4 linked regions of the Homo sapiens genome follow. The protein of the gene in region 2 purifies or fractionates together with the protein of the main gene of each other region. This does not show direct contact. Each region holds a gene or a part of one and is shown on either strand. Other genes may lie near its edges.

Evidence for each region.
Region 1: the proteins of PAEP (region 2) and SAV1 purify together in Homo sapiens (co-immunoprecipitation; 2 studies listed by BioGRID and IntAct, with this or other methods). This does not show direct contact.
Region 3: the proteins of PAEP (region 2) and PROS1 purify together in Homo sapiens (co-immunoprecipitation; 2 studies listed by BioGRID and IntAct, with this or other methods). This does not show direct contact.
Region 4: the proteins of PAEP (region 2) and KLHL22 purify together in Homo sapiens (co-immunoprecipitation; 2 studies listed by BioGRID and IntAct, with this or other methods). This does not show direct contact.

What each region holds. Positions count from the first base shown.
Region 1 is NC_000014.9:50,633,080-50,639,720, forward strand, and holds the end of SAV1 (protein salvador homolog 1), read right to left. Parts: intron 2,306-6,641; coding exon 2,104-2,305; 3' UTR 501-2,103; downstream 1-500. UniProt on the Homo sapiens protein: Regulator of STK3/MST2 and STK4/MST1 in the Hippo signaling pathway which plays a pivotal role in organ size control and tumor suppression by restricting proliferation and promoting apoptosis.
Region 2 is NC_000009.12:135,563,583-135,568,696, reverse strand, and holds the end of PAEP (glycodelin isoform 1 precursor), read right to left. Parts: intron 4,454-5,114; coding exon 4,343-4,453; intron 3,360-4,342; coding exon of another isoform or gene 3,288-3,359; coding exon 3,183-3,287; intron 2,913-3,182; coding exon 2,896-2,912; exon of another isoform or gene 2,867-2,895; intron 2,164-2,866; exon of another isoform or gene 2,145-2,163; 3' UTR 1,742-2,144; downstream 1-1,741. UniProt on the Homo sapiens protein: Glycoprotein that regulates critical steps during fertilization and also has immunomonomodulatory effects. Four glycoforms, namely glycodelin-S, -A, -F and -C have been identified in reproductive tissues that differ in glycosylation and biological activity.
Region 3 is NC_000003.12:93,872,033-93,881,446, forward strand, and holds the end of PROS1 (vitamin K-dependent protein S isoform 2 preproprotein), read right to left. Parts: intron 7,283-9,414; coding exon 7,131-7,282; intron 5,160-7,130; coding exon 4,934-5,159; intron 2,374-4,933; coding exon 2,213-2,373; 3' UTR 1,019-2,212; downstream 1-1,018. UniProt on the Homo sapiens protein: Anticoagulant plasma protein; it is a cofactor to activated protein C in the degradation of coagulation factors Va and VIIIa. It helps to prevent coagulation and stimulating fibrinolysis.
Region 4 is NC_000022.11:20,484,184-20,493,597, forward strand, and holds part of KLHL22 (kelch-like protein 22), read right to left. Parts: intron 9,382-9,414; exon of another isoform or gene 9,076-9,381; coding exon of another isoform or gene 8,965-9,075; intron 8,959-8,964; exon of another isoform or gene 5,648-8,958; coding exon of another isoform or gene 5,585-5,647; intron 5,062-5,584; coding exon of another isoform or gene 5,029-5,061; coding exon 4,802-5,028; intron 1-4,801. UniProt on the Homo sapiens protein: Substrate-specific adapter of a BCR (BTB-CUL3-RBX1) E3 ubiquitin ligase complex required for chromosome alignment and localization of PLK1 at kinetochores.

The sequences.
Region 1 (6,641 bases), on a different chromosome or scaffold from region 2:
GATATAGAATGATGAAGGTTTATCTCTTTTTTTAGACTCAAGATGCATTTTATTTAATGTTGACATCAGTACAAACTTAAGTTTCTATTTTACAAAACATGCTAATTCCTTTAGGTAACTTCTAGTTCTTAATGACTAAAATCTCTAGTGGAGTTTCACTGAACAGACTTCTTAGAGGAAGAAGGAAAGTGTGTTAATGAAAAAAGTAATACTTATCTAGGAGGTCCAAAACAGAGAAACTTCTAAAGACTGTCACAGAAATGGCTACACCATAATTAAGTAGCGATATAAAGTAAGAAGTGACAGGAAAGAACAATTAAGATAGAGGAGTGTGGGAGTTCATAAGATATATATACTGACATCTTAGAAAAGTCTGATCACAAGTTCAGCAAATTATCTTTTCCCAGTGATAAAATTCCACTAGCCACACTTTCATTTTTCAATACCCCTTTTCATTACCCCTTTCAATTATATTGATTCCTTTGTCTATGGCCTTTTGAACAGAAAAATGAAATACAGCACTATGTCTAAAACATGGACTCAAAAACCACGCGCTTAGTTTCCACAAAAATATATTTAATAAGCTTGTTATATAAAATCAAACACTTAACATTGTCAACATTTCTTCAGTTATTCAAACTCACTGATATCTAACTGGGAGTAGTTTGTATTCTGGAAGACTTCCTAAGCTAAAAGTATATTTACATATTTACAACACATGTAAATATAACTGAAGAACTACTTCAAATAATGTTGAAATTCACAGAATTCTAGAGATTTATAGTTATAGTTTAGAAGTATCACCAATTTGTTTGCAATCAAATGTACAGCACTAATTATGAAAAATGTTTTAACTATTAAACCAAAAGGGGAGAAAAACTGGGAGGGAAATATATGGTGTTAAAGTCCTGTGATAAATACTTAGAAAATTAAAAAGTAATAATATACATTCGATTTAATGACCAAAAATTTTTTTTGAATCCCTGGTTGTCATTTTTGGTAGCTTAACCCAGTCTGTCAGAAGGCAGTATGCTATGCTGTCAGGAACTCTCCACTGCCTCGTCAGAGCCATGCTAAATGCAGTAACAGCACTGGCTGAAAATAAGGAAGATGATGTTAGCAACTTTGAGTTTCACGCACCTTCCCAATACAGGCTAAGTATTCCTGCTTATATGTATTCCTGAAAGATTAAAAGGCCCGTCACCCATTCATACCAAAAAATACTTTCTCAACATGCTTTAAAAGGATTCCTTATTTTGTTTTTATTTTTTTATTTTTTATTTTTTGAGACAAGGTCTGGCTCTCTCTCTCTCAGGCTGCAGTGCAAGTGGTGCGATCTTGACCCTGCAACCTCTGCCTCTTGGGCTCAAGCCATCCTCTGACCTCAGCCTCCCAAGTAGCTGGGACTAGAGGCACACACCATCATACCCGGCTAATTTTTTTGTATTTTTTGTAGAGATGGGGCTTCACCATGTTGCCCAGGCTGGTCTTAAACTCGTGGACTCAAGCGGTCCACCCACCTCGGCCTCCCAAAATGCTGGGATTACAGGAGTGAGCCACCACGCCCAGCTGGGTTCCTTACTTTGGAGAGGGGAGACAAACATACATCATATATAAATATTTATCACAATAAGGTTCCAAATCCTATTTTATATTTCAACTACATCATGGTAATATTTAAACCATCCCTTTCCAGACAATATTTCACACTACAGCGGTAAACTTTTTTTTTAAAAAAATACCGCAGATTCTTTTTTTTTTTTAAAGAAGGTACTACTGCTGTAAGAAGTTAACAAGTAATAATTTCCTATTTAACATCTGTTCATAATGACATTTCCGCTGCGTTTTTTTCCATCAAGAATACCAAAACAGTTTCCTAATATACAGTATTTGAAAGTGTTTGCCATATTGGCTCTTAAAATGATAGACTAATTTTTCTCATTCAATAAAAGAAAATTTCTAATAACAAAATACATGTAAAGTTAGAATTTTATAATTTCCACAAAGGAAGCAGCATTTATTAACCAGAGTACTTGTTTGCAATTTTTTATCTGTGAAAATATTTTAAAGCTCTTACAAAACTTAAATTTTTAAAAAATCAGCTCAAAAATTTTTTCCATGTTGTTGGGCATACCACTGCTGTCTCTGCTTTCGGTTTTCCAACTCTGTAAGAAGGGCTTGTCTGTATGCTTCATACATTTTAACAATCTGCTCCAATTCTTTCATGAAGAGCAACTTTAGCATTCCCTGGTATGTATCCAGGTCAGCCAGCTGGAAGAGTTCCCACTTCAGAATGTGGTCATATCTGTTTTAAAACACAATCATATATATGTTCACAACACATACATAAACATGTATTTCTAGCAAGAAACTAGTCTGTTTTTTAAAATGTCAACTTTATTTATAACTAAACAAACCATAAGTTTTAATTAAAAATAACTGGGCACAGTGGTGGCGCCTATTATAGTCCCAGCTACTTGGGAGGCTGAGGTGGGAGGCTGAGGTGGGAGGACTGCTTGTGCCCAAGAGTTTGAGGCCAGCCTGGGCAACATAGCAAGACCCTGTTTCTAAAAATAAATAAATCAGTTTTTTAAAAATCTGAGTTATTAACTGCTATTTACATATAATTCTTTGTTGGTTTGTTTTTTTGAGACAGAGTCTTGCTATGTCACCAGGCTGGAGTGCAGTGGCGTGATCTCAGCTCACTGCAACCTCCGCCTCCCGGGTTCAAGCAATTCTCCTGCCTCAGCCTCCCAAGTAGCTGGGATTACAGGCATGCGCCACCATGCCCAGCTACTTCTGTATTTTTAGTAGAGACAGAGTTTCACCATGTTGGCCAGGAGGTTCTCAATCTCCTGACCTCGTTATTCGCCCACCTCAGCCTCCCAAAGTGCTGGGATTAACTTTGGGAGCCACCGCGCCCGGCCTACATATAATTCTTCTAAGCAAAGGAGAAAACTGCTAATATTACTTCATTTCAATTTAAGTTAAAGAATACCTATTTCTTTAAATTACCCATTATTCTAATATTAACACCAGACAACCTTGAACACAGATTTCAAACTACAGTGGTTCTATAATTTCTGAAGAACATATTTTGTGCTACTTATAAGTTCATCAAAAGTTAACTGTCAGGAACTTAAGAATACTTTAGACCATATTGTGCTTGCAAATGATAATGCACAAAAATGGATGGTCATTTGCATCATTCATGTTGATGCATCTTTTTGAGGAATGCTATTCACAACAGCAAACAAGGAACCAAACAGAAGGAGAAATGAAGAGGAACCCTCAATTCGTGGCTCTAAGTATTCTTGAGGCTGAGTACACAGCATCTAAAAAAACAAACAGGAAAACTAAAGAAGGAAAGAATAAACTTTTTAAAATGAGAGAATGAGTAGACTATAGAAGGCTTCAGTGTGGTGAAGGATTCACAAAAGATTCTGTTTACATATATCATGGAAGACCATTAGTAGTCTTTCAGTGGTAAGTAGATCCCTGCTTAGCAGTAGTACCTTTAGTAGTCGGCTACATAGTTCCATTTCAGTATGTGATGAAGACAGCACTGTAATTAATATTCTCATTTTAAAGATGAAAAACACTAAAACCTAAAGAGGCTCTTTACCTCTTGCAAAAGTGCTTAGTGACTAAAAGTTCAAAAAGGAAGAGAACTATGGACCAAGATGCTTCAAAATAGTGGTTTTCAATGTTAATATCCACTAAGACTAGACAAAGAACTTGAATTAGGGAAACGCATGTTATACCCGAAATTATACCTCTCAAATCATACTGCAGAGCAGACATAATAGGAAGCTTTGATTGCAAACTCTAGCATTATTTTTAATGATCGTTTATAGTATTTCCTACCCAGTGGTTCTTTGATATTATACCATTTTCTTTCAAAAGGACTGTCTAATATTTTAAAATGAGATTTTAAAAAAGGGAGATAGAAAACATACCGAGCAGTTAGTGTGAGCCACTATACTTGGCATTTTGACATGTTTCTATTCAACTTGAGTATGTGTAACAGAAATGTCAGTAATACAACATGCAAAAACTGGAAGGTAAATATATTTAATTGGACTGCCAATTTCACTCAGTTACTTGAGAGCTGCAAATTTATTAATAGATTTAGATTTCTTTGGTAGGAAGCTCTGTTCTTTTTAATGGGAAACTCCAACCACTTGTGAACATAAATTAGAGTGATACTGTAAGAAATACTCAATGAGCCTCCATGAAGAAACAGTTATAAGGTATTTCTTAGAACATCCACCATTCTTGTAACTTAAGATTTTATGTGCTCCTTGGAAACAAATTCATAATTCCTAACAAAAAATCTTAATCTCCCAGAGTTAGCTAAGAGGCAATTCAGCAATGTCTACTAAGTCAAGATGGTTACCATTTATACCAGGTGAACTACAACAATGTTAAACTAATCTATCATCTGTGTACTTTCTAGCAAGGAAAACAAAGAACAAAAATAAGATGGTAAATATTATACTTATTTTTAAGACACGAATATCATTCTGTATAAGTATTCAAGTTTTGTCTAAAGGAAGAAAAAATCTTCAAACAATTTTGTCAGTTTTTTTTTTTTTTTTTTTTTTTTTAAGAGATGAAGATCTCCTATGTCTCCCAGGCTGAAGTGCAGTGGCTAATCACAAGCACAATGCCACTACTGATCGGCACAGTAGTATTAACCTGCTCCCTTTCCAACCTGGGCCAGTTCGCCCCTCCTTAGGCAACCTGGTGGTCCCTGCTCCTGGGAGGTCACCATACTGATGCCAAAGAGTACAGACATCCGACTGGCATAGTGCATCACAGCCCAGAACTCCTAAGCTCTAACAATCCTGACTCTGCCTCTCAAGTAGCTTGGATTACAGGTGCACCACCATGCCTGGCCAAGTTTCTGACTTGCCAATCAGCATTCAGCATCAAGAGTACGATTATGGGTAGAAGCAACAAAATCAGATTAGAGAAAATCCTTCTGGGGGAAGAAAGTGCACTCCAAGAAGGGCACAGATGTGAAAAAACTGCAAAGCATGGAATGGAAATCCTATTCCAAATTCTTTCCTCTGTTGCTTCTACATAGTTACTACCCTTCTGCCTATAATCACCTAAGTGTTCCTTCTTTTTCTGAAAAGTATAAACTCCCATTCTTTCCTTCTTAACTAGCCAAGAAATTTGCTTCCACAAGTTTAACTTTTAGTCATTTATACTGTATATACACAGGTAAATCATTCCGAAAATTGGGTGTAAAACACTCCAGTAGTCCATGCTTCTAGCATCTCTTTCACTCTGTTTTTCCTAGGGCAGTATTCTATTCAAATACTACTTATAAATAAGCCATATATACAAATGCCAGTTGCTATAATGCTACCAAAAATAACCTGTCCACACTGCATGCTGACTTCAAGATCAACAGTGCTGCTATCCTCAGCTCCAGGTATCACCATGTAGCCTAAGTCCCCTGCACCCACCCGCCATAACACTGTGTCCACTCCTCCCTCTTTTTCACCTGTATCCAGAGCAGGGTCAATGGTGACACTGCAGGACTGCCAAGCCACTGGAATAAAAAATACCCCTGCCACACACTGCTGAGGACTAGTGTTTTGGTGTGTGTGTGAGAAATAACAGAAAGTAAATATGTTCTTGACAATGTTTTTGCTGTCAAAGATTAAATTTTATTTTATTATATTTTATTTTGAGATGGAGTCTCGCTCTGTCACCCAGGCTGGAGTGCAATGGCGCAATCTTGGCTCACTGCAACCTCCGCCTCCCGGGTTCAAATGATTCTCCTGCCTCAGCCTCCCGAGTAGCTGGGACTACAGGCGCGTGCCACCATACCCAGCTAATTTTTTGTATTTTTAGTAGATACAGAGTTTCACTGTGTTAGCCAGGATGGTCTCGATCTCTCGACCTTGTGATCCACTCGCCTCAGCCTCCCAAAGGGCTGGGATTACAGGCATGAGCCGCCGCACCCGGCCTAACTTTTAAAATTTTATCCTATAGTTCAGCTTGAGTACAGTTATACCAAGCATTATAGACTTTTGTGAGCAGACACAGGAACATAACTTTACAAAAATTAAATACAAATTTAAAACACAGTCTGTTTCTAAATCAAGTTTTAGAAGTATATGCAAAAATTGTGTTGGTAAATTACTGTGAGAGATAGGATTAAAGAATTTCAGGATTAAAGAATTTCAGATTCTCAATTGTCTGAAAAACAAAAGGAAGAAACATGCAAATTTTTTTTGCAAAAATGTCTCTTTTTGTTGTGATAATTGATTCTCATTATCTAATTCATAGATAACCACTCACCCTTTGTTGATAGAATATTAACCATTTCCATCCTCTTCAGCAACATTAATTAGAATCAACTAGAAAGCAACAGGCTTCCAGACCTCTTGTTTAAGTTTTTAAGCAGTAAAGAAGTATAGTACTTGCTCCCTTTTTGTCAGTCTGGCCCATTTTGGAAGAATTACAACCTATTTGCTAGTTTCCTTGAGTTTTATAGTTAGCTCACAGAACCACAGAATTCAAAAAGACTATAATCTTCAGGAATCTGTTTCTTTCTGTAAGAAACCAGGAATTCCATTTAAGTACTATCTCTTCCCCCAAAAAGGAAAGATTATGCTATT
Region 2 (5,114 bases):
AAATGTTAACTGGTTCAAAAGTTAAAACTGCATGAAAGTTACACTTATAAAAGGCTGGCTTCGATTCCTACCCTCTGCATGCATTTTTATCCTCAGAGATGACCATACTCATTAATTTCCATTCATTCCTCCTGTGTCTTTTTCCAAATAGGTGTGGACAGTCTTAATTCCATTCTTTCTTGTATGAAAGTCAGCAAAGACCATGTACCTGCCTCTTTGCCTCATTTGTCTCACTTAATGACACGTGCTAGAGATTTACTCTGTGTCCATTTGTAGAGAACTTAAAGGGAAAGGGTTTTAATGTTTTTAACAGACTCCAGCATCTGCAGAGAAATCATGGTATTCTTGATCCTTTAATTACACAATTATGTCCAGAGATGTCTTCCGGGGGTGAAGCTCAGGTAGACGCCTCTGTGATTCTCTCACCGTGTGACTGGGTTCCAGGGGCACCGGTACTGTTCGGGGTGTTTGCTTCGACACACAGGGTGGTGTGGTGATGGAGCCAGCAGGTGCAATGGTTGCATGTGTGGGTATTAGACTCCCTGCCAGTCCATGTGCCACCCACCAGCTGGGCAATGAGACAGTAAGGGCTTCTGCCCCATGGGCAGTCATGAGGATGAAATGGCCTATTTGAGTGTTGTTGTTGTTGTTGTTGTTTTTTTGGGTTTTTTTTTTTTTGAGATGGAGTCTCGCTCTGTCACCCAGGCTGGAGTGCAATGGTGCGATCTCGGCTCATTGCAACCTCTGCCTCCTGGGCTCAAGCGATTCTCCTGCTTCAGCCTCCAGAGTAGCTGGGATTATAGGTCGTCCGCCACCACACCCAGCTGATTTTTTTTATTTTCAATACAGATGGGGTTTCACCATGTTGGCCATCCTGGTCCCGAACCCCTGACCTCAGGTTATCTGCCTGCCTCGGCCTCCCAAAGTGCTGGGATTACAGGTGTGAGCCCCCATGCCTGGGTTAAAATGGCCTGTTTGTTATATAGACAGTGCGGACGTTCCTTACTGCCTCACAAGTCCTAGTTACTCCTGGTAGGGCCTGGTTTTGTGGAGTTTTGATGGAGATATTTTCCCAGCATTAGAAACGAGTGTGGAAGCTTTGCCCCCTCCCCATGCCTGCGACTCTTCACATTGCCTCGTTTCACCTGTTCCCGAAAGGAGCAGGAGATCCCTGGCCGCTTGCCCGGCTGCTCTCGATGCTGGGGGCTGGGCTGGGACACAGACCTCTGACTGTGTCTGTCTGTCTGCCTTGGGAAGGGTCCTTACCTACTCTGTCTCCAGTCTTCTCTGATCTGTTTTGGATGCTTATATTTGCCTTGAAATCATCTCTTTTGGATTGTAAAAAATATATTCTGGAGTCAAATAGCATAATCCCTTATGACTCTTTTAATCTATTTTCTCTTAATCTGTGGTGATTGATACTTGCTGGAATTTTTTTTCCTGGGTGTTTCTGACAGGTGAGCTAAATCCTACCATGCCCACCCCTCCCCACCTGGGGGCACAGGTGCATGAATTTGATATGTTTCTCTGATTTTGTCATTTTTGCTTTTATCTTCCTTCATTCTATTTTCTTACTTTCCTCATTCTAACGCTTTTTTTTCTAACAAGAGCTCATTACAGATTCATTGATTTTAATTATTTCTTGCTAACCCATTTCAGTATTAAAGACTATGAGTTTTCCTCTGGGCTCATCAATTCTGATATGAGTGTCCTGGTTTTATTGTTCTAGACATTTCACAAGTTTGTGAAAGTGGACCCTTTTGTTTTGTAGATAAGAAACTTGAGGTATTTTCTCCACCAGAAGCTGCCCATGGGTCTGTAGGAGCTCCGGTTCTGCCAGGCGGTGGCCTGGGCCTGCCCCGACCCCAGGCCCTCGTCCCTGAATCCCACACCCAGCAGTGGCTGCGCATCCAGACAGGACATGCTCCAAGGGTTTATTAATAACCTCTGCCAGAGACTCTGCCCCCAGGGAGCAGCCTCCCCATGGCCGTGGTGCAGGTGTGCAGCAGGAAGGGGATGGCGACACAGATGACCACGTCATCGTCTTCTGAGCTGTGGTTATTCTTTGAAAGGGCAGGAGGAAGTCCCACTGCTCTGGAGGTGTGGAAGGGTGGGAGTCTGGTCTTCCTGGAGGCGGAGGTGAGCTGTTGGGTTTACAGGTCACTTAAGTAGAGGGAGGAAGAGCAGGGTGTTTCGGGGGAGCCCTGGAAGGATGTGGTGGGCTTGAGGACACCCCCTTAAGAATGTGGCACTGAAATCCCAGCACTTTGGGAGGCTAAAGCGGGGGGATCATGAGGTCAAGAGATTGAGACCATCGTGGCCAACATGGTGAAACCCCGTTTCTATTAAAAATACAAAAATTAGCTGGGCATGGTGGCACACGCCTGTGGTTCCAGCAACTCGGGGGGTTGAGGCAGGAGAATCGCTTGAACCCAGGAGGTCGAGGTTGCAGTGAGCTGAGATTGTGCCACTGCACTCCAGCCTGGTGACAGAGCGAGACTCCATCTTAAAAAAAGAAAAAAAAAAAAGAACGTGGGACCGAGACCTGCAGGTCCCCAGCTTCTCATGCCCTTCCATGTAACCATCCTCCTTCCTCCTCCTATAGCCCCCACCATTTCCAACCAACACCCCTAACCCCAAAAGAAAGCATGAGGTCTGACTATAGGGCACAAGCCCGTGACTAATACAATGGCTGCAAGACACAGGCTGGGCTCGTGAATGGGGACGTCAGCAGCCTGGCTTTCTGGAATCACAAGACCAGACCCCAGTTCATTCCTGTAGGGTCAGCCCTGAACTGGACACAGTAGGGTCTGTCCCAGGGGCCCAGAGAGGCAGCCGCAGACAGTGGGCGAGGCTGATACATTACCCAGGAGGCAGGACCAGGCAGGAGCTCACCTAGAAACGGCACGGCTCTGTGGGAGGAGATGGGACAGTGGAGGTGTCAGCGAGAGAAGAGACAGCTGGGGACACAGCAGCCCCAGGGCTAGAGAAGGGATGAAAGGATGGTGGGAGAGGGCAGGACCCCACCTCAGGGTGGCTCTGCACCCCAGAAGGCCAGGGGAGAACAGGGGAGGGGCCAAAAAGGAGTGACCTGAGTCCTGCAGAGCCAGCAGGGGGCTCGGGCTAAGAAAGAGGCAGCTTCTCCTCCAGCTGAGGCTGGGCGTGTCCTAGGCAGAGCTCACCTTCCATCTGTTTCAAGTCCAGCAAGTACCATAGGTGCCTGGGCAGGGGCCTGAAAGCCCTGATGAATCCCTGCATGATCTCATCGTCCTCCACCAGGACTCTGGCTGTGGAAGAGGCTGGGTCAGTCCTGGGCCCCTGGGGCTTCCATGAGAGCTGGGGAGCTCCAGAGGCCTTGCCTGAGGAGGGAGGGCAGAGAAGGAGGCCCCAGTGCTCCGAGGTCTGGCAGAGTTTGGTCTGGAGTAGGTCCCTAGGGCGGTCTCCGGGGCTCTGTCCACTGCACCTCCAGGTTCCCTGACCCCAGCTCCCACTCCTTGGCCCGGCCCCCTCTGCTCCGCTCTGGGCAGCGCTGGGGTCTGCACAGCTTAGGATGGTGTCTACAGCGTCACAGGAGAGCACAGTGCCTGGCTCTCCCAGTGCCCGGCTCTCACCAAGCATGGCTGAGGCTGATCAAGAAGACACCTGTGTGACCCCAGAGGAAACACTGTGCTCAGAAACATGGGGAAGGGCTGTGCCTATGTGGCTATTTTGGTATTCCTGGCCTTCGTTTGGTTGACAGCATCATAGGTTTCAGGGCGTTTTGACTGGACGCCCAGTGAGTATTAATCTATCCACCAAGCCCAGCCCCTTGACTGGCGACCGTCCCACTGGCCCTATATCAGCTCCTTGCTTTGTCAGAGGACTCGATGAACCGCTGGAGAAAAACTCAGCCTGGCCGGGCGTGGTGGCTCACGCCTGTAATCCCAGCCCTTTGGGAGGCCAAGGCGGGTGGATCACTTGATCCAGGAGTTGGAGACCAGCCTGGCCAACATGGTGAAACCCCGTCTCTACCAAAAAATACAAAAATTAGCTGGGCATGGTGGCGTGCGCCTGTAATCCCAGCTACTCTGGAGGCTGAGGCACGAGAATCGCTTGAATCTGGGAGGCAGAAGTTGCAGTGAGCCGAGATCACGTCACTACACTCCAGCCTGAGTGACAGAATGAGACCCTTTCTCAAAAAAACAAAGCAAACAACAAACAAATAAAAAAAACCAAGAAAAAAAAAGTCAGCCCACAGGCACCGAGGTGGACAGGAAGCCAGTTGTCAGCTCCCCAGGGTTCCCAGCCACGGACGTAGCTGCTGCCTCTCACCCACGTTGAGCTCATGTGCTGTGAGACCCACCCAGGTACTGGCACATCATGCTCTGGATGGGGGTGGTGGTGTCCTGTAGGCAGAGAAACAGGAAATTGTCGTAGTCAGTATCGAGCAGCGTGGCCTCGTTCGCCACCGTATCTGGGGAAAGAAGAGAAGAACCAAAAGGAAGATGAAGCCTCCGTCTCAGCAGAGTCCTGTGCAGGTGTGTGGACATCCCACCACACTAAGTGGCTTCCTCATCCACTGACACCATGGGACGTGGCCCCTGCTGTGGACCATGATCAGGGAAGCCAGGGAGGAAAGGGGAGGAGAGGCAATGTGGAGGGCCATGGAGCCCCGGCTGAGGGGGAGAGGCCAGGTGTGCCGTGGAGAGGCAGACACGGCAGGCAGGGAGGCTGTGACCTGGAGAGACTCCAACTGAGAAGTCACGTACGGGTGAGGATGGCGGGAGATGGCACAGGAACAGGGCACAGGGGCGGGAAGAGGGAGAAGAAATGGACCTTGGAGAGTGGCTCGATTCTGGGGAGGGCAAGCAGGGTCAGAAAGGCCTGAGGCAAGTCCCAAGCATGAGAAGCAAACTGTATTTGCTGGGAAAATGTGCCCATGAGGGGATAAGAGGCCCCAGACCCTGACCACCTCTGTCTTTTTAAAAAAATAATAATTAACAAAATAGAACAAAATGTTGCAAATTGTTAGGAAGAATTCAGTGGACCAAGGACATGCTGTAAGCCCCTCTCTCTTCCCCCAGAGAGGCCTGGGAGCTCAGCCTAAGACCAGAGCTGCAGCCCCAGAGTGCGCA
Region 3 (9,414 bases), on a different chromosome or scaffold from region 2:
CCGATGATAGCAACTAAAGGTCCAGGGAAATGCAAAAATAAATAGGCAATTATTTTGTGAAAAATTTTCACATGAAAAAGTCCTCTTTCCAGTAATCCCACCAGTTCCTTAATTCTAGAATGAAAAGAAAATTGGAAATACTTTATTGTATTGGCATATAGGGACTGAGACTAGAATTATACTTTCAGACAGGAGAAATTAGGTGAATAGTCCTGTTCTTACAGATTAACCATTGCTTTCACTGATCCATCACTGACCGCTGCAAATGGTTAAGTTCTATTACCATCTCACATAACATGTTCAAAAAGTAAAAAGAAAAAAGAAAGCTTTTTCAAAAGGTGAATTCTAAGGGACTCTGTAATGGCCCTGTTATTTGGAGTTTTTTTTACTTATATACAAAGCTGAAATGGCACCAAATATCCACTTTGCCTTGTTCTCTACCAACTCTTTAAAAGTAGGAATCTATATTTCTTGGCAAAGTTCAAAACTAAACATCAATCAAAGATTCTTAGCCATAGGTCTAGACCCTCTCTCTAGGCATGTATGAGCACATCTCAAAGGTAGATGAAATTTATAAATGCGTCTCTGGAGCCTCTACGAGCATCATTGCATGTGGGAAGGTTTCTGCTCCTGATGTGAAAGGTAGAATTGATCCCTATATCTGACCTGTATGTGGCATAATCAAATGAAAAGCAGGGAACTCCGCCCCTTTCTTTCACTTTTTTTTCCCTCTCTCATGTATGTTTTCTCTGTTTTTCTTTTTCCTTGCTCTTTTACATGAATGTAATTATCAATAGTCACTTGCTGATATTCATCCCCCATAGTACCTGGTGGCAATTGGGAAACAAATTATATTTAGCAAGACAATTTATGGTTTGTGTCAAAAGATACATGTTACTTTTGCTTCTCTTCACCTTCTGAGCTCCAGTCTACCACCCAACCATAAATATTATTCAAATATTGGAGCTTTATCTGTCTTTTAACTGAAGAACTACTTCGTTGTATGAAGAGTTAAATGTCTATTATGTAATTTTGTTTTATTCAAACAGTTGATATAATAAAGATATTCACATGCATTTTAAAATTATACACCGATTTATTATAAGTGATATAAAATACAGTGAAAAGAATTTATTGTTAAAAACTGTCAGTGAAACATCTGATACACATCTGGCTATGAATGGTAGATTCAAACGTGATAAAACTGCCACTTGAAATGCATCACAGTACCAGCAGGCACGTGGCAATCTTACCTCCTTACTTCTTTGATTACAATGATACGATATTCACTATATCCCTCTGTGGTTGTCCTTTTGTTAAAATTTGTTCTGGTTTTCATAGTTCCTTTTGTACTTCAACAATCACATTTTGGCAACTTACTCTGGTAATTAAAAGTTGGATTCAAGGAAAACTATGAACTCCCACATTTGTTCATTCTCCTTTCCATCCCTGAATTCTGTCTTTTGTAATGTAGACCTTGTGTGACCCACACAGCAAAATTTAAAAAATGTACCCACTTCAGATTTCCCCACCTATCCAACCTAATCTGATATCTCATCCTGACAGACTGCAGCTGCCAAGAAGAAGATTCCTGTGCTGCTCTCAGGAAAATATGTCCCACTTGTTTTCTAATTCAATAAAGATACTGGTTTAAATGTGAAGCCACACAAGAGAAAGATGAAGCCAAAGCTGTTCCCCCTGAGGAATTGTTTTGAAATAAGGCATTAGGACCCTCCATTCAATTCATATTTAATAGACCACCATCTCTTCTGCCTTCATCAGGAAAAAAACAAAAACATAAACAAAATAGTATCTGCCTATGATTAATAGTATTTAATTACACGCACTTTTGTTTGAGTTTACTTCCTTGCTTTCTGAAAAAAACATAGGTATTTAGACACTAGTTCATGATGATAAAATTAAAATTTAGTTTTACAAACAAAAATTGAAACTGTCATTTGTAGGAAAAAAATTCAAATTTAAAATTGTTATTTTTCACTATTCTTAGATAGCAAGAGAAGTAAGAATTTCTTTACTGTGATTTATATCACAACAGAATTTTTTTCCTTGACAAAGGACCTTTTAAAAATCCCAGGAAAGGACCACAAAATAATCAAAGACTGCACATTGTAAATAAAACCCTTCAGCTGTTATTGAAACATAAGTATAATTACACACAAGGAAAAGGTATTATAAGCAGAGAAAAGATGCCTTAAGAATTCTTTGTCTTTTTCCAAACTGATGGACATGAGTGAGCTCTAATATCATTATGTTTAGAAATGGCTTCATCCAGATCCAACTGTACACCATTAATATTCACTTCCATGCAGCCATTATAAAAGGCATTCACTGGTGTGGCACTGAATGGAACATCTGTAAAAGGAAAATATTAGAATATTAGTCCAAGACTTTTAGCATCTTGTTTGTTTACAGTGAGAGAAGTCATTCAGACTTCCTGTTTCCAACCAAATTCTAATCCTAAAGGAAAAGTTAATAGTGAAATTCTATTCCATAAATACATGTTAAGTGACGCCGATATACATGTTACTGTACTTCATTGAATTCAGCATGTCATGAGTTCCTCAGATTTCATAAACACAATTAGTTCCATTTAAACTTAAACACATTTGAGGGAGAGTAGAAACAAGCATATTCTTGTGATATTCTATTTTTATTATACAAATAACATACTATTTTCTCTTTAAACTTAAGCAACAGTTTAAGCATTGTTAAATCATTTTCTTAACTCCAAATTATAGCTACTTGGGAATCTCTTTTAAATGTCATGATCAATATATCTCTTTTATTATTGTTGGAATAAAAGCAGATTTCTGTATTTTTCCAAAGAAACAATTTTTTTGTTGAGCATACAATAGGTCATGATACAGGATTCACTTTCATGTACTATTTAGAGTTCCTAAAAATAACAATTTTCCTTCCTCTTTTTTGGCCTCTCCTCTCCATTAATCTTAACTCACAATGGATATTCTTTAGCCCTTATTCTTCATCTTCAGTACCTTATGCCAAAAAAAAACCTTTAAATTTTCAACTTCTAACTTGCCAACACAGTGAATAAAGTTCCTACTTTACTATGACTGTGAGCTCATAGCATTTGTTAAGAATCCCTTTCAAGTTGGGCTAAACATCATAGATTATGCCACTTTTCCTTTTTTGAGAAAAGAAATTACTCAAATTCATTCGATTTTGAGGAAAGAAATTACTCAAAATCATTCATTTCTCTTGGGTTTTAGTACTTCACATGGAATTTTACATGCCTACTTTGCATGTAATTAATAATTTACCCATCTCACAGTTTATACTCTTAATATCTCAATATTTAGCTCCTCTCAAATCTTCCCCACTCTTTCTCTCAAGACATTTTGCCTGAAGTTAGTCCTCAGTGCTGTTGCCAAAATCCCGAAACCACTGAAATTTTGATAATTCTACTTCTTTTAAACTCTTTGTTGGTTTGATTTCCTAAAATTGCATTCAACTAACTTGTGGATAAGGTAGTAGGTAGATTTCAATATAGAATTTATTCATTTAAACTATAATTTTACTCCCTAATAATTAGGCATGCTCACTACTTACCTCTATCTATCTATCTATCTATCTATCTATCTATCTATCTATCTATCTATCTATCATCTATCTATCTGTCTGTCTTTCTATAGCTTTTAAAGCCTATTTACTTCTATTTCCCAAAACCCCAGATACAATTTCCATATATGGGAAATCAAGACCATGAGCAGTTTAAGCAGTATATTGAAGGTTATCAGAGGTCCAGACATCAAACTCAGAATTCTCCCCATGAGAATAAATTGCAAATGTCATCTGAAAATGCTTCTAAATAACTTTCTGCCTCTAATTTTCCATTTAAAGTGAAATATTGGTGCCAATTTCATATTTTCCAATATTCAGTTAAAGATGAATCTGTTTTTCCTCCAGTTTTCCCCATCTTGGTAAATGGAATCTCCATCCATGCAACTGCTCATGCCAGATACCTAAAAGTCATCCTTATACCTGTCTTTCAGTTATTAAATCCTATTAATTTTGTTTCTAACACATATCTCCGATCTATTTACTGTCCATCATCTTCATTGTTATCACCCTGGTCCTGCAGCTTCCTCAGTTTCCTCATCTGTAAAATGGGGATAATAATAGCACTTACCTCACTGGACTATTTTGAAAATTAAACAAGTGGATATATTTGAAGCACGTTAAACAGTGCCCAGACTGTTTGTTTTGCAATAGTTGATGGTAGTTAGATACTACAACTATTGTCACTGCTCACGCCTGTAATCCCAGCACTTTGGGAGGCCGAGGCGAGCGGATCGCAAGGTCAGGAGATCAAGACCATCCTGGTTAACACGGTGAAACCCCCTCTCTACTAAAAATACAAAAAGATTAGCCGGGTGTGGTGGCGGGCACCTGTAGTCCCAGCTACTCGGGAGGTTGAGGCAGGAGAATGGCGTGAACCCAGGAGGCGGAGCTTGCAGTGAGCCGAGATCGTGCCACTGCACTCCAGCCTGGGCGACAGAGCCAGACTCCATCTCAAAAAAAAAAAAAAAAAAAAAAAAAGCTGGATAAATGATAAGATGAACTGAATAATAGATGAATAAATATTGGGTAAATTAGAACAAATATTGAACTTATAAGACTATTGTGATGATGAAATAAAATAACATATCCTTTCTGGCTGGGATAGCCAAATGAAGCAAAACTTGATCAGCCTTAGTTCAACATTTTTAAACTAAACAAAACAAAACAAAAATATGCCAATAAAATGTCGGTACTAGCCCCTAGAAAAAGAATAATGAATACTGGATTTTATGTTCCCTTCTGATGCTTTTTTACTATAATTATATATTTAAAATATTATCGGTTTGATTAAAATATACTTTTTAAAACTGAAGAAAAAGTAAGCAGATACCTGGAAGGCCACCCAGGTATGTGGCCACTTTTGCTTTCATTGCTTTGTCCAAGACGGCAAGTTGTCTTTGAAGGTCTTCATGGGAGATGGTTTCTATTTTAAGTGGTGTCGACAACTCCAGATTGTTTCTGTTGACTCTAAATTCCAGATGAGATTGTTGATCGGAACATAGACTTAGGGCCTGTATCCGATATATTACAGTATTTTCAACAGATAACAGAATATCCTGAAGAGCAGAGCAAAGATTCAATATAAGCAAGGAGTAAGAGTAATGCTGCTTAAGAGTGACTTTTGAGTTTTTGAAAGTCAAAAACTAAATTTCAATAAGGAAAGAAAATGTATGATAGAGCCTCTAAATTTAAGGGAAAAATCACTAATTATTATAAGACTAATTTATAATAATTATGACTAAAATTTAAAATACACATTAGTTTTACAAACTCAAAGTTTAGCTAAAATATAAATGTATACTGGTTTCTGAAAATTCCGTAAAACAACCGGAACCTATAGGAGTGTCTTATATCTTTCTGTTTATGAGCCTTCCTAATTTCCAAGTTTACATATGAAAAGGGAAGGAGTTGAATCACTCTTTGTTGAGAAAAGACTTGGGAAATTTAAAATGCTTTAGTAAGCATATGCCAGCAGGACTAACAGGTTTCTTTGTGCCACACAAGCAATCCTACAGACTTGGGATAAAATAAATGAAGAGGCCCTGAGAAAGAAAAACCAGGGATTGCCACCAGCACGTTATAGAACATTTACCAGAAGATTCTACAGAAAGAAAATGTGTTCATTCTGCTGAACCTTTCAAACTGCCGTTATGCCTAAATTACTCAATGTGTTGAGTGTGATCTCTTCATATAGCTTATATGGCATAGAGGAAAGTGATAAAAACATAATCAGAAATGTTTATTTAGGAATCCAAGATACCTATTTTAAGTGAAAAGACTAACTTTGCAAATATAGGTTACTTGAGGAAATCTGTTATTGTGTTGTACATGTCCGTATCCTTAAACTCATTAAAAGAGATTGTCAATAAAGAAAATGCTCCAAAATGATCAATGATATCTGGAATAATGTTATGAAATATTGCATAGACCTTGAGAAGGAAATCTGACATGCAAAGAAAGAACCACGGAGGCAAACACTCAAAGGATAAATTAAATATCAAAGACATGGCATGCGTTAACCTCCTCCACTGCATGAATGTAGTGTTTAAGATAAGAATTCCATTTTGTTTAAAAAGAAAAACAAACTAGCAAACAAAAAACCCCTGAAATCCAAATGTAGAAAGCTCCTTAAAGGCAGGAGATTAAAACAAAAACAAAAACAAAAAAAAACTCATCAGGATATTTTTAGGTTACTTATGGTTAACCACCAGAAACTTCCCATCCTCCTCCCTGAATCATACTTTAAGTTGCAAACAGCATAACTTGTTTTACTACAATAGACATTATTCAACCACAGGTCTCTTTCTAAAATCTACTGAAAGCATCCAAGTCAGCCTTGGCATAAACATCAGCTTCTTGCTGTAACTTGTTAGAATGCACTGTGGATGACACATAGACAGAACGACTATGCTCTAATAGAAGTCTGAATAATACAGATTTTCTGATAACCCTCATATTTCCTTTCATCTAAGGCTTTTTCGTGTTCTTCCTCCTAATTTCAAATAAGAGTTGCCAGTAAGAAACCAAGTGGACCAGTTTTAACTTTCTCTCTTTTTTCCTAACTTACTCTTGGGAGAAAAGATTAAGAGTGTAAGAAAGAACAAAACATTATAATTAAGCACTGAATATCTGACAGTGCACTGTAATTAGACTCACTTCTATGTTGACAGTACAGACTAATTCCCACAACACATAAAGTATTCTTAATAAGGGTGGATCTCTATGTACTCGGATGGCTCCAAGCAGCCTGTGTGAGAGTCTGCCTAATCTTAGGTATAGATGCAGTAGGTTTTTCATTCCTCCCTCCCCTTACTTCTTCATTCAGACCTTGGAAACAAGCCAGAAAAAAAGTAACAATAATAGACATTTTTTGAGTCCTTAATGATGTGCTGGAGATTGTGCCAAACACTTTACATAAGTTACTTTATTTAATCTTCAAAATAGTCCTTTGAGGTAAATACTGCTATGTATACATTTTAAAAAATGAAAAGAAAAACAAGGCTTATATAGGTTTAGAGTTAAGTTACCTGTGATTTTTCAGAGGTGGAGTCCACCAAGGACACAGCAAAGGGCACTGTGTTGTTACCAGAAACCAAGGCAAGCATAACACCAGTGCCCGTGGATGGACGAATATTCAAGGTCACATTTACATGCCAACCCTCAGCACTGGATACATTATCTATTTAAAATAATGAAACAGAAGCATGATCAATGCACTCCTAAAGTGCATCAGAAGGAATTATTATTAACACAGTCCAGGTAATATTCAAAACTATCTTGTGTAATACTATTTCCATTCCCTTTCTCAATGATCTATATAACCTAGGCAAAACAAAACAAACTTTTTTGTAATGCAGGCAAGAAACATGCAAATGGAGTACCATCTTCCCGTTCTTCCTAGAAGAGAATTCTGGATTGTGGTGTTAAGGATTATCATGGATTTTCCCAGTTTGCTCTTTAACAGTGCTTCCTTCTCCCTTGCACATTCACCAATGCTCAAATCTCAGAGTGGTCATATTTCCAAGCACACGTTTGAAAATTCAACAAATTTACTGTAATAATTTAGGGAAAATCTGGGTACAGTTGCCATCATCACTCCAAAGGATAAATATGATCTATATACATAGGAGAGTTGGATAGTTCGATACTAGAGAAATACACTGACATCAGCAGTTAGTTTTGAAATCAGAATAGGAACCCTTGTTTTGTGAATCTCTTGTCATAATCCTTCACATTCTCTTTCTTAATTACTAGGTTAATTGTCTATCCCACTAACATGCAAGCTCTAGGAGGTATATATCTCTATCATTGCTTTGTTTTCCCCAGCACTCACTCAATAGATATTTGTTGAATTAATATGTTTCCAGAATAGTTGGATTACTAAAAATATTAGTTCATAATCTGAATGAAGTCTTCCTCATTTAATATGATGTAACATACAGCAAAGCCCAAATACCACACGGAGCCCTTGAAAGGGTAAATGTGAATAAGGAAAATCATTTTCCTTTGACAAGATGTTCTTCCACTTAGCCACATATAATGTCACTGTTTTTCATTATAATCCTGTAACTCCCATCCAGAAGAAAAAAAATATATAGACCGGGTACGGTGGCACATGCCTGTAATCCTAGCACTTTGGAATTGCCTGAGCTCAGGAGTTCGAGACCAGCCTGGGCAACATGGTGAAACATCTCTACTGAAAAAAAAATACAAAAAATTAGCCGAGCATGGTGGTGTATACCTGTAGTCCCAGCTACAACTCGGGAGGCTTGATTCAGGAGAATCGCTTGAACTCAGGAGGCAGAGGTTGCAGTGAGCTGAGATCACGCCACTGCACTCCAGCCTGGGAAAAAGAGTGAGACTCTGTCTCCAAAAAAAAAAGAATGTTTATATGTAATCATTGTGAAATAAGTAATTTTTAATTGATATATCATAATTGCACATATTTTGGGGTACATATGTCATTTGATAAATGCATACAATGTGTAATGCTCAAATCAGGGTAATTGGAATTTCTATCACCTAAACATTTATCTTGAAATAAGTAAATTTAACACAGAATATTAAACTCAAACTAAAATGAACACACGAATGTATAGAAGTTAAAATGTAACATTAAATATTAATTACAAAGTAGATCACTTACAAATTATCCATGAAATGATTAATTACTTATTAAAGTAATTTTTTTAGATACAATATAACTCTTATTTTCATTACCTTTTCAGGATTTTTTTCCTTTGGCCAAATCACCATGGATTTAGTTTTATCCTAATTTAATCCTCACCCCATTTATAACTTTAAAAAAATCTTTCATAGGCAGAACAGAACTAGGCATTGTATCAATTTGTGTTAGAAAAAGGGAAATCATTTTTGTAAAATTTGTCCTTAAAAATACAGTAAAAAAGGCTGGGCACAGTGGCTCATGCCTGTAACACCAGCACTGGGAGGCTGAGGCAGGAGTATCACTTGAGTTAAGGAATTTGAAAACTGACCTGGGCAACACGGGAAGACCCTGTCTCTGCAAAACATAAAAATTAGCAAGGCATGGTGGCATGTGGCTGTAGTCCTAGCTACTTGGGAGGCTGAGGCAGGAGGATTGCTTGAGCCCAGAAGGTCTAGGTTACAGTGAGCCATGATTGCACCACTGCACTCCAGCCTGGATGACAGAGAGAGACCCTGTCTCAAAAACAAACAAACAAATGTAGTAAATATAGACTACGAAAGATGGGAGGGTGGGAGGAGGGTAGGGGTTGAAAAATTACCAATTGGGTATCATGTTCACTATTTGGGTGATGTGTACACCAAAAG
Region 4 (9,414 bases), on a different chromosome or scaffold from region 2:
GGTTTCGCCATGTTGGCCAGGCTGGTCTCCAACTCTGGACCTCAGGTGATCCACCCGCCTCAGCCTCCCAAAGTGCTAGGATTACAGGCATGAGCCACCGTGCCCAGCTTTGTTTGTTTTTTGCTTTTTGAGGCAGAATCTCACTCTCTCATCCAGTCTGGAGTGCAGTGACGCGATCTCAGCTCACTACAACCTCCACCTCCCAGGCTCAAGCGATTCTTGAGCCTCACCCTCCTGAGTAGCTAGAATTACAGGTGTGCACCACTACGCCCAGCTAATTTTTGTATTTTTAGTAGAGATGGGTTTTTGCCATGTTGGCCACACTGGTCTTGAACTCCTGGCCTCAAGTGATCTGCCGGCCTTGGGCACCCATTGTGCTGGGATTACATGCATGAGCCACTGTGACCAGCTCTAATTTTTGTATTTTTTGTAAACATGGGGTTTCGTCACGTTGCCCAGGCTGGTCTCGAACTCTTGGGCTCAAACAATCTGCCCACCTTGGCCTTGCAAAACGCTGGGATTATAGGTGTGAGCCACTGTGCTCAGCCTTTTTTTTTTTTTTTTTACGAGAAAAGAGGTCTCTTACTTTGTCATCCAAGCGAGAGTGCAGTGGCATGATCATGGCTCACTGCAGCCTCAACCTCTCAAGCTCAAGCTATCCTCCCTCCTCAGCCTCCCAAGTAGCTGGGACTATAGGCCACGCCACCATGCCCAGCTAATTAAAAAAAATTTTTTTTTCTTTTTCTGAAACTGCTCTGAAAAAATTTAAATGGCATTGGAGTCTTTTCATAAAAGGCACACCTACCCTGGAAAACATCTGGGCTTTGTGTTTTGTGGGGAATACAACTTTCTCTCTCTTTTGGGGATAAAGTGCTATTAATTTTTTAAAAATAAAATCATCAATTGTATCCAAACTTTTAAAGTAACAGACATTGAGTTCAGCTAAGCAGTCTTTTATAATTCACAGATGGAATGAAAACTAAGGGAGGGACGAGGTGACCCATGGAGGTTGTATAAAAAGGACAGAGCCTTTGGGCTCTTCAGACTATAAGGGTCCAGGAGGAGAGGAGAAACCACCTCAGAAGCATACAAGGTTAAAGCATACAAGGTGGGTGTAGGGTCAGGGGAGCCAAAGTAAGTGTGCAATGAAAAGTTATTAACAAAAGTCAAAAAAAGAAAATGCAGTCTGGCCATCCAATTCCTAAACCATGTACAGAGTACACAGAAAGAGCACAGGAGGCTTCCTGCAGCAGGGCAGTACAGCTCTCTGCCCTTCAGGAAAACTGAGATTCCTCCACCTGGGAAACAGCAAGGGACAATTAGGGAAAGCTCTCCAGAGGAGGAGGCATCTCAGGTGGGCCAAAGAAGAAAAATTTCCACAGGACAGAAAAGGCAGAGAAGAGGCCAGGCATGGTGGCTCACGTCTGTAATCCGAACACTTTGGGAGGCCAAGGCAGGCGGATCACCTGAGGTCAGGAGTTGGAGACCAGCCTGGCCAACATGGCAAAACCCCGCCTCTACTAAAAATACAAAAATTAGCCGGGTTTGGTGGCACACGTCTGTAATCCCAGCTACTCAGGAGGCTGAGGCAGGAGAATCACTTGAACCCGGGAGGCAGAGGTTGCAGTGAGCCGAGATTGCCCCACTGCACTTCAGCCTGGGGGACAGGGCGAGACTCCATCTCAAAACAAACAAACAAAAGGCTGGGCGTGGTGTGGCTCACACCTGTCATCCCAGCACTTTGGGAGGCCAAGGAGGGCAAATCACAAGGTCAGGAGTTCGAGATCAGCCTGGCCAACATGGTGAAACCCTGTCTCTACTAAAAATACAAAAAATTAGCCGGGCGTGGTGGCGCACACCTGTAGTCCCAGCTACTCGAGAGGCTGAGGCAGGAGAATTGCTTGAACCCGGAGGCAGAGGTTGCAGTGAGCCGAGATCACACCACTGCACTCCAGCCTGGGTGACAGAGTGAGATTCCGTCTCAAAAAAAAAAAAAAAAAAAGAAATTTATGTTCTTTGTAAAATAATTCAGACAATGCAGTAAACAGAAGAAATTCAGCCTCCCTCTCCCTTTGCCCTTTGCTGAGTCCCCACGGTGCAGCAAGATCCTTCCAGATCTTCATGGTTGGGATCATCTTCCACCAGGTCCTGAGGTTTTTCACTCCCTATCAGTAGACACACCACACTGCCCAGTTTGCAAGTAGCTCCATTGGATAACACAGAAAGGCTCTGTCCTGCACCATGTCTCAGCACTGGGTGCATCGTCCCACAGGAATGACACCTAGACACCCAACATACAACTGCAGGGCCCTAAACTATGGGCCAGCCCACCCCTAAATGCCCTTCTCTCTACCCTTGCCCATATCAAATATTACAAGCCTCTCACACATATTTACCAGTCATACTGGGAAAAAAATAGTCCTTTATCATTTTAACATTTCACAAGTAACTAAAACAAATAATAAACATGCTAACACTTGGGAATGGTCTATTTCTTTTCTTTTTTTTTTTTTTTGAGACGGAGTTTCATTCTTGTTGCCCAGGCTGGAATGCAGTGGCGCAATCTCGGCTCACTGCAACCTCCGCCTCCCGGGTTCAAGCAATTCTCCTGCTTCAGCCTCCTGAGTAGCTGGGATTACAGGCATGTGCTACCACGCCCAGCTAATTTTGTATTTTTAGTAGAGACAGGGTATTGCCATGTGGGTCAGGCTGGTCTCCAACTCCTGACCTCAAGTTATCCGCCCTCCTTGGCCTCCCGAAGTGCTGGAATTATAGGAGTGAGCCACCAAGCCTGGCCTCTTTCTAGGCTCACTGCAACCTCCGCCTCCTGGGTTCAAGTGATTCTCCTGCCTCAGCCTCCCAAGTAACTGGGATTACAGGCATGTGCCACCACGCCCCGCTAGTTTTTGTATTTTTAGCAGAGACGGAGTTTCACTATGTTGGCCAGGCTGGTCTCGAACTACTAATCTCAGGTGATCCACCCGCCTCGGCCTCCCAAAGTTCTAGGATTACAGGCGTGAGCCACTACATCCAGCCTCTTTTTTGTTTTTTTGAAACAGGGTCTTGCTCTGTCACCCAGGCTGGAATGCAGTGGCACAATCTCGGCTCACTGCAACCTCCGCATCCTGTGTTCAAGCAACTCTCCTGCCTCAGCCTCCCAAGTAGCTGGGATTACAGGCGCCCACCACTACACCCAGCTAATTTTTTTTTTTTTTTTTAGTAGAGACAGGGTTTCACCATGTTGGCCAGGCTAGTCTCAAACTCCTGGCCTCAAGTGATCCACCTGCCTTGGCCTCCCAAAGTGCTGGGATTACAGGTGTGAGCCACCGTGACTGGCCTCTATTTCTTATTTATACATACACACACACACCCCCCTGTGAAATGACTCTGGGCTCTTCCAATAATGTTGCCACTCTCCCGCTCCCCTTCCCAATGGAAGTGGAGGGATGCAGGGGGTGTTAGTGATGCATTGTAATCATCCCGGAGAGCAGGACACCTCTCATAAGAGGTTTACCCAAGGGGGGCTGTGGAAAGGGCTAGAAATTGCTCCTGGAGGACGTGGAAAGCCACATAAGGTTTTTGACAGATTAGCGAAAGGCTGCCTACACTGTCATCTTCAGAAAGAGTGGTATGACACTAAATCAAGAAGGGCTGAGAGGGTGAGCCCAGGGGATCCCATAGGCTCCACAGCCTCTGGCCATCCTCTCCTATACAGGTCCTAAGTCCCCTGCAGGGGGCCCTCAGCTCCTCTACCCTACCCACTGTCCTGTATGTTATCTTAATGCTTATTAAAGGCCTCAGCTGAATTTCCCTGGTGAACTGAAAGAATTCTGCTGCTCCTGGACACATCTGCACCAAGCCACCACTGGGTCACATTCTCCAAAACTCCTTTTGGAGACAGAAGGCACTTAAACCATACATATTTTGCTTGATAGTTCCTAATTAAAAAAATAGAGAGAGATAAAGAGAAAGAGAGAGAGAGAGAACTACAACTAAGCCTTGAAGACAAAATGATTGAACAGAATCAGAGCTAGAATGGAACACCTCAGGCTTGGAGTCCCATGACAACCTTGCTGGGGACCACGAGTGGCCCTCAGTCCTTCTCAGGCTCATGCCACCTATGTGAAATAAGGGTGGTGACACCCACCTCCTTGAGTGCAGAGCAGTGCAGACAACAGGGCAAATGGTGTATTGATCTGCTATCTGTGTACATAAATTTATTCATTTAAGCCATGGGTATTGTTTGAATATGTGAAAACCATGTCAGGTGCTAGGGATAAGAGACAGATTCCAACCCAGTGGAAAAGACAGATAAGCCAGTGGTTCCTCACACTGTGCCAAGTGCTGGGATGGGGTCACGAAGGAGGCCATAAGAAACCCCAGAGGGGCCACAGAGCTCACTGGGAGGGCCAGAGGCTAACACCTGAGGGATGAGAGGTGTGAGCCAGAAGGTGATGCATACACAGCAATAATTACTGACGGAGGGGAGGAATGGTAAGGGAGGGGAGGAGAGAAAGGAGGAAAGAAAAGAGAAAAGAAAAGAGAGAGAAAAGGAAAAGAAAAGGAAGAGAAGAGAGGGAAGAGAAGAGGAGGCAAAGCCCAAGAAACAGGATCACTGAATGAAAAATGAACTCTAAGACCCCCTTCTGTCTCTCACACTTGTTGACTAAGTCATAGCCACAAGGAGTAGGGGAGGCTCTGAGGTGAGCAGGAGACCAGCCACTGTCACCGCCAGTACCTTTACTAGCAGAGCCAGGATTACCTTTGTTATTCTTCTTACAAACAGCTCTAGTGAACTCACCTGAAGTAATCGCAGGACGCAGCCAGCAGGATGCGATGGGCCTCGATGTGTCTGCCCTCCACCACCAGCACAACATCGAAGAGGATTCCGCTGTCCCGGAGAGCCAGCAGCCCTCGGAGCAGAGCCTGGGAGTGCTGTGCGCTGCGGTAGGTGTTGTTCACGCAGTGTGGGTGTGAGGGCTGTGCAGGCAACTTGCAGAGCTGGGTGAACTCCTGCTCCTCTGCCATCCTGACAGCCACAAGATCCCTTACAACTGTGGCCTGACAGTTGGCAAAACAGGGGACAGGGGTGAGCAGGCAGGCATCAGCCCCACCACACACAGACTGGCCAGCTCTGTTGCTCCCCTTGCTCCTGTGCCTCCCTCAGGCTCACCTGTTTTCCCTCTATTTCCAAATCCCCTAATTCCTTCTCCCCTCCCACCTCTAGTCCAACTTCCTGATGGCCTTCTTCCTGATGACCTGTGTGCCATCATGCCCAAGACTCTTCATCTCATTGTATCTTCTTCAGCGGCAAAGTCAAACAGAAGGGTTTTGGGAAACAGACTGACCTGGGTTGGAGCCCAACTCCACAGGGACTTACAACATGACCAAACTGAGCCTCGAGCTCCCCAATTTTAAAAAGAGAGATAAAAGTACCTACCCCATTGGGGTATTCTAAAATTGGTAAAACAATGAACATGAAGCATAAGCACACACCAGGTTCTCAAGAGCTCTTCCTCCCTCCCATTGAATGAACAAAATTGGGTTCTTCCTCATAGTAATGGATGCATAAAAATGGCAAGACCTGAGTAGTGGTCAGGAGACACACAGCCAGGAGTCTGGGAGGTGGGTGCCAAGGGGGTGGCATTTCCAGGGCCTACTTTCCTTTACTGAAATTCTGAGAGTCAAGCACAGTAACTGTGATTGAACCTGATGCATTTAAATTCATCTGCATTGCCTTTTAAATTAAAGATTATCTTCTAATAATTGAGTCAGTACGTTCAAAAACCGCAAACTGATTTGAATTGGAGCCTCTAAAACCTAATCAGTAAAATGAACCTACTGCAAATGCACTTTTGCCATGGAGCAACCAAAAGTGACTGTGGATAGCCAGCTGTTCAGGTCAGGGAGTGGCCAGTCCCACACTGTGAGGCATGGCCAAGCTGCAGGCTCTGTAGGCACAGCACAGTCAGCTACAAGATGTGAACATCTGTCTTCTCCACCTCACTTCATCCTACTTTCCTCTCCCCAAAATATGTTTATTCTCCAATTACCTCCAGTCATGCATCACTTAATGTTGGGGATACATTCTGAGACTTATATCGCTGGAGGCAATTTCCTCAGTGTGTGAACATCAAAGGGTACACCTACACAAACCTAGGTGGTAGAGACTACTACACATCTAGGCCATAAGGTACAGCCAATTGCTCCTAAGCTACATACTTGTACAGCATGTTACTGTAGTTCTGAATGAAAAAAACACACTGTTTTTCCTCTCCTCTTATACCACAACAACAAACACAGGAGACTTCTGTGACCAAATGTGTGAGGGTTTTTCCCCATTAACAAGCAAGCAATCAATTCTGCCACAGATACCAGCTGGGTGTCTTCTAATTCAGCAGTCCCCAATCTTTTTGGCACTAGGGACCACTTTCTTGGAAGACAATTTTTCCACGGGGTCGGGGAATGGTTTCGGGATCAAACTGTTCCACCTCAGATTATCAGGCATTAGCTAGATTCTCTTTCGGAGCACACAATCTGGACCCCTCACATGCATGGTTCACAACAGGGTTTGTGCTCCTATGAGAATCTGATGCCACCTCTGATCTGACAGGAGGTGGAGCTCAGGTGGTAATGCTGGATCACCCTCCACTCACCTCCTGTTGTGCCACCTGGTTCCTAACCAGCCACAGACTGATACAGGTCTGAGGCCTGGGGGTTGCGGACCCCTGCTCTAATTCAACTCTAACACTACCTGGAGACAGTGTCTGATCCCACAGGTTGAGGGCTGAGTCTCCCAGGTTGTTTCACCTGTGCTTCTGACCAATAGGCTATAAATTGGGTTCCCAAGATCCCCTTCTTGGGTTCAACTAATTTGTTAGAGCGACTCACAGAACTCAGGAAAATACTCATGTCTACTGGTTTGTTATAAAGGGTATTGCAAAGGATACAGATGAAGAGATGCATGGGGCCAGACATGTGGGAAGTGGTGCAGAGCTTCCAGGCCCTCTCCAGGAACATCACTCTTTAGGAGCCTCCATGTGTTCAACTATCCAGAAGTTTTCCAAACCCAGTCATTCAGAATTTTTATGGAAGCTTCATTATGTAGGCATGACTGATTAAATCACTGGCCATTGGTGATGAACTTAATCTTCAGCCTGTCTCCCCTCTCCGGAGGTTGAGAGGTGAGGCTGAAAGTCCCAACCCTCTTATGCCTGCCTTGGCCTTTCCTGTCACCAGCCCCCATCCTGAAGCTACCTAGGGGCTGCTGGCCAGCATACAAAAAGGCATCACTCTGGAAAGTCCAAAGATTTTAGAAGTTGTATGCCAAGAAATGAGACAAGACCAAATATATATTTCACAATATCACAGTACTGAATACTATAGGCAACTGTAACACAATGGAATTTGTGTATCTAAACACAGACAAGGTACAGTAAAAATATGGGACCACCATCCTTCATGTGGTCTGGTCTGTCATTGACGGAAACATCACTGTGTGGCACATGATTATATATCTTTAAAAGAAAAAATGAAAAATATATGCTGATATAAAACTTGCCAAAAAGAAGAGGTCTCTCTCTTCACTACTGAGGCTCAGGGCCACCCCCAACCCCATCCCCTGGATGCTCTACTGCTTCCCATCAAACACACTCAGTTATCTGTGCCTGCCCCTGAGTCTGCCTCCAGGACCTGGGACCTCTATCCAGCCACCCACCCATTCCTTTCCCCCTCCTGGGCTGGCTCATCTTTCTCACCAAGGCCCCAGAGATGGCCACAGCCAAGGTGTATACCCCATGACCACCTCTCACTTAGGATTCTCTTGCCTGGAAACTCTGCTCTATGATAATTCTCCCTTTTCTGACCTCTCTCTTTCATCCCACACACCCTGCTCGAGCCCATCCTTCTTTCCCAGTGGTTCACATTCCCAGTTTCACCTACAGCTCAGTGCCTAATCTAGCTAGTAGCCCTCCAACTTGTCTAATTTTACTATCAAAGCTACCATTTCCATCTTGGAAACCTCACTGTTTTAATATTTTTCCTTTCTAACCCATGTGCCCTATGAACCTACTAGTTCTGATTCCTTCACCTCTCCTCCATCTCAGACAGCCACCCTCCACTCCTCCAGGGCCACCACTCTGGGTCAGACCACAGCAGTGATGCCCCTACCAGTTTCCCTACCTCTTGTCTCATCCTCCCCAGGCTGCTCTCCTTCAAGCCTTACCTACTCAGCCCCATCAGCAGTCCTTAGTCCAAAAGGGATACCTGTCATCCCCTGAACACCTTTAGTCACCCATCTAGGCCATTCTGTCTCTCATAGTCCCATATTGGTCAAGGTCTAGCTCGATTACTTCTCCCTCTATCATTGTACAGAGAACATGACAAATATGCCCCACCATTCAAACCTGCCCTTTTTTTTTTTTTTAGACGGAGTCTCGCTCTGTCACCCAGGCTAGAGTGCAGTGGTGTGATCTTGGCTCACTGCAACCTCTGCCTCTCAGGTTCAAGTGATTCTCCTGCCTCAGCCTCCCCAGTAGCTGGGATTACAGGCGTGCACCACCACACCCAGCTAATTTTCTTGCATTTTTAGCAGAAATGGGGTTTCACCATGTTGGTCAGGCTGGTCTCGCATTCCTGACCTCAGGTGATCCATCTGCCTTGACCTCCCAAAGTGCTGGGATTACAGGCATGAGCCACCGCGCCCGGCCCAAACCTGCCTATTTACCCACGACAAGGAGATTCCGGCTTCTTGAGGGGTGAGGTTTTATCTCACAAACATCTCAAAAGCCCCCATGGCTGGCTGTACCACTTGCTAATGACAGACTCTGGGCACTTGTCTCATATACCCACGCCTCAGCTTTCTCATCACCACCATGACCACCGCAGAGTCAAGAGGGCCTCCTTCTCTGAGGGTGACCTCCACAACTACCCCAATAGACATCAAGCCCCCAGGTGGATCCTCACCTTCCGTGAGCATAGTAGTGCCTCTGCTCTCTTGGGAAGGGATAAATGGCAGCTACTCCCTAAACCCATACTGCAAAAACAAGTACGGTAAAACAGAAAGACATCTTCCATGGGCAGGCAAAGCACATTTACCAAGTCCAATTTAAGAAACTTAGCTAGGGGCTAAGGGGGATATGCTGAAAAATGAATCAATTCTCTGCTGGGAAGGAGCACAGCACAGGGTGCAACATTTAAAACATTTAAAACCACATCTATACGGTTTTAAATCACCAAAACGTCCACCCTCAGGAGAACAGATGTCATGGCACAGTGATCTGACAGAACATTAGGCAACAGTCAAAATGCGCAAAGTGGCCGGGCGCAGTGGCTCACGCCTGTAATCCCAACACTTCGGGAGGCTGAGGCGGATGAATCACGAGGTCAGGAGTTCAAGACCAGCCTGGCCAACAT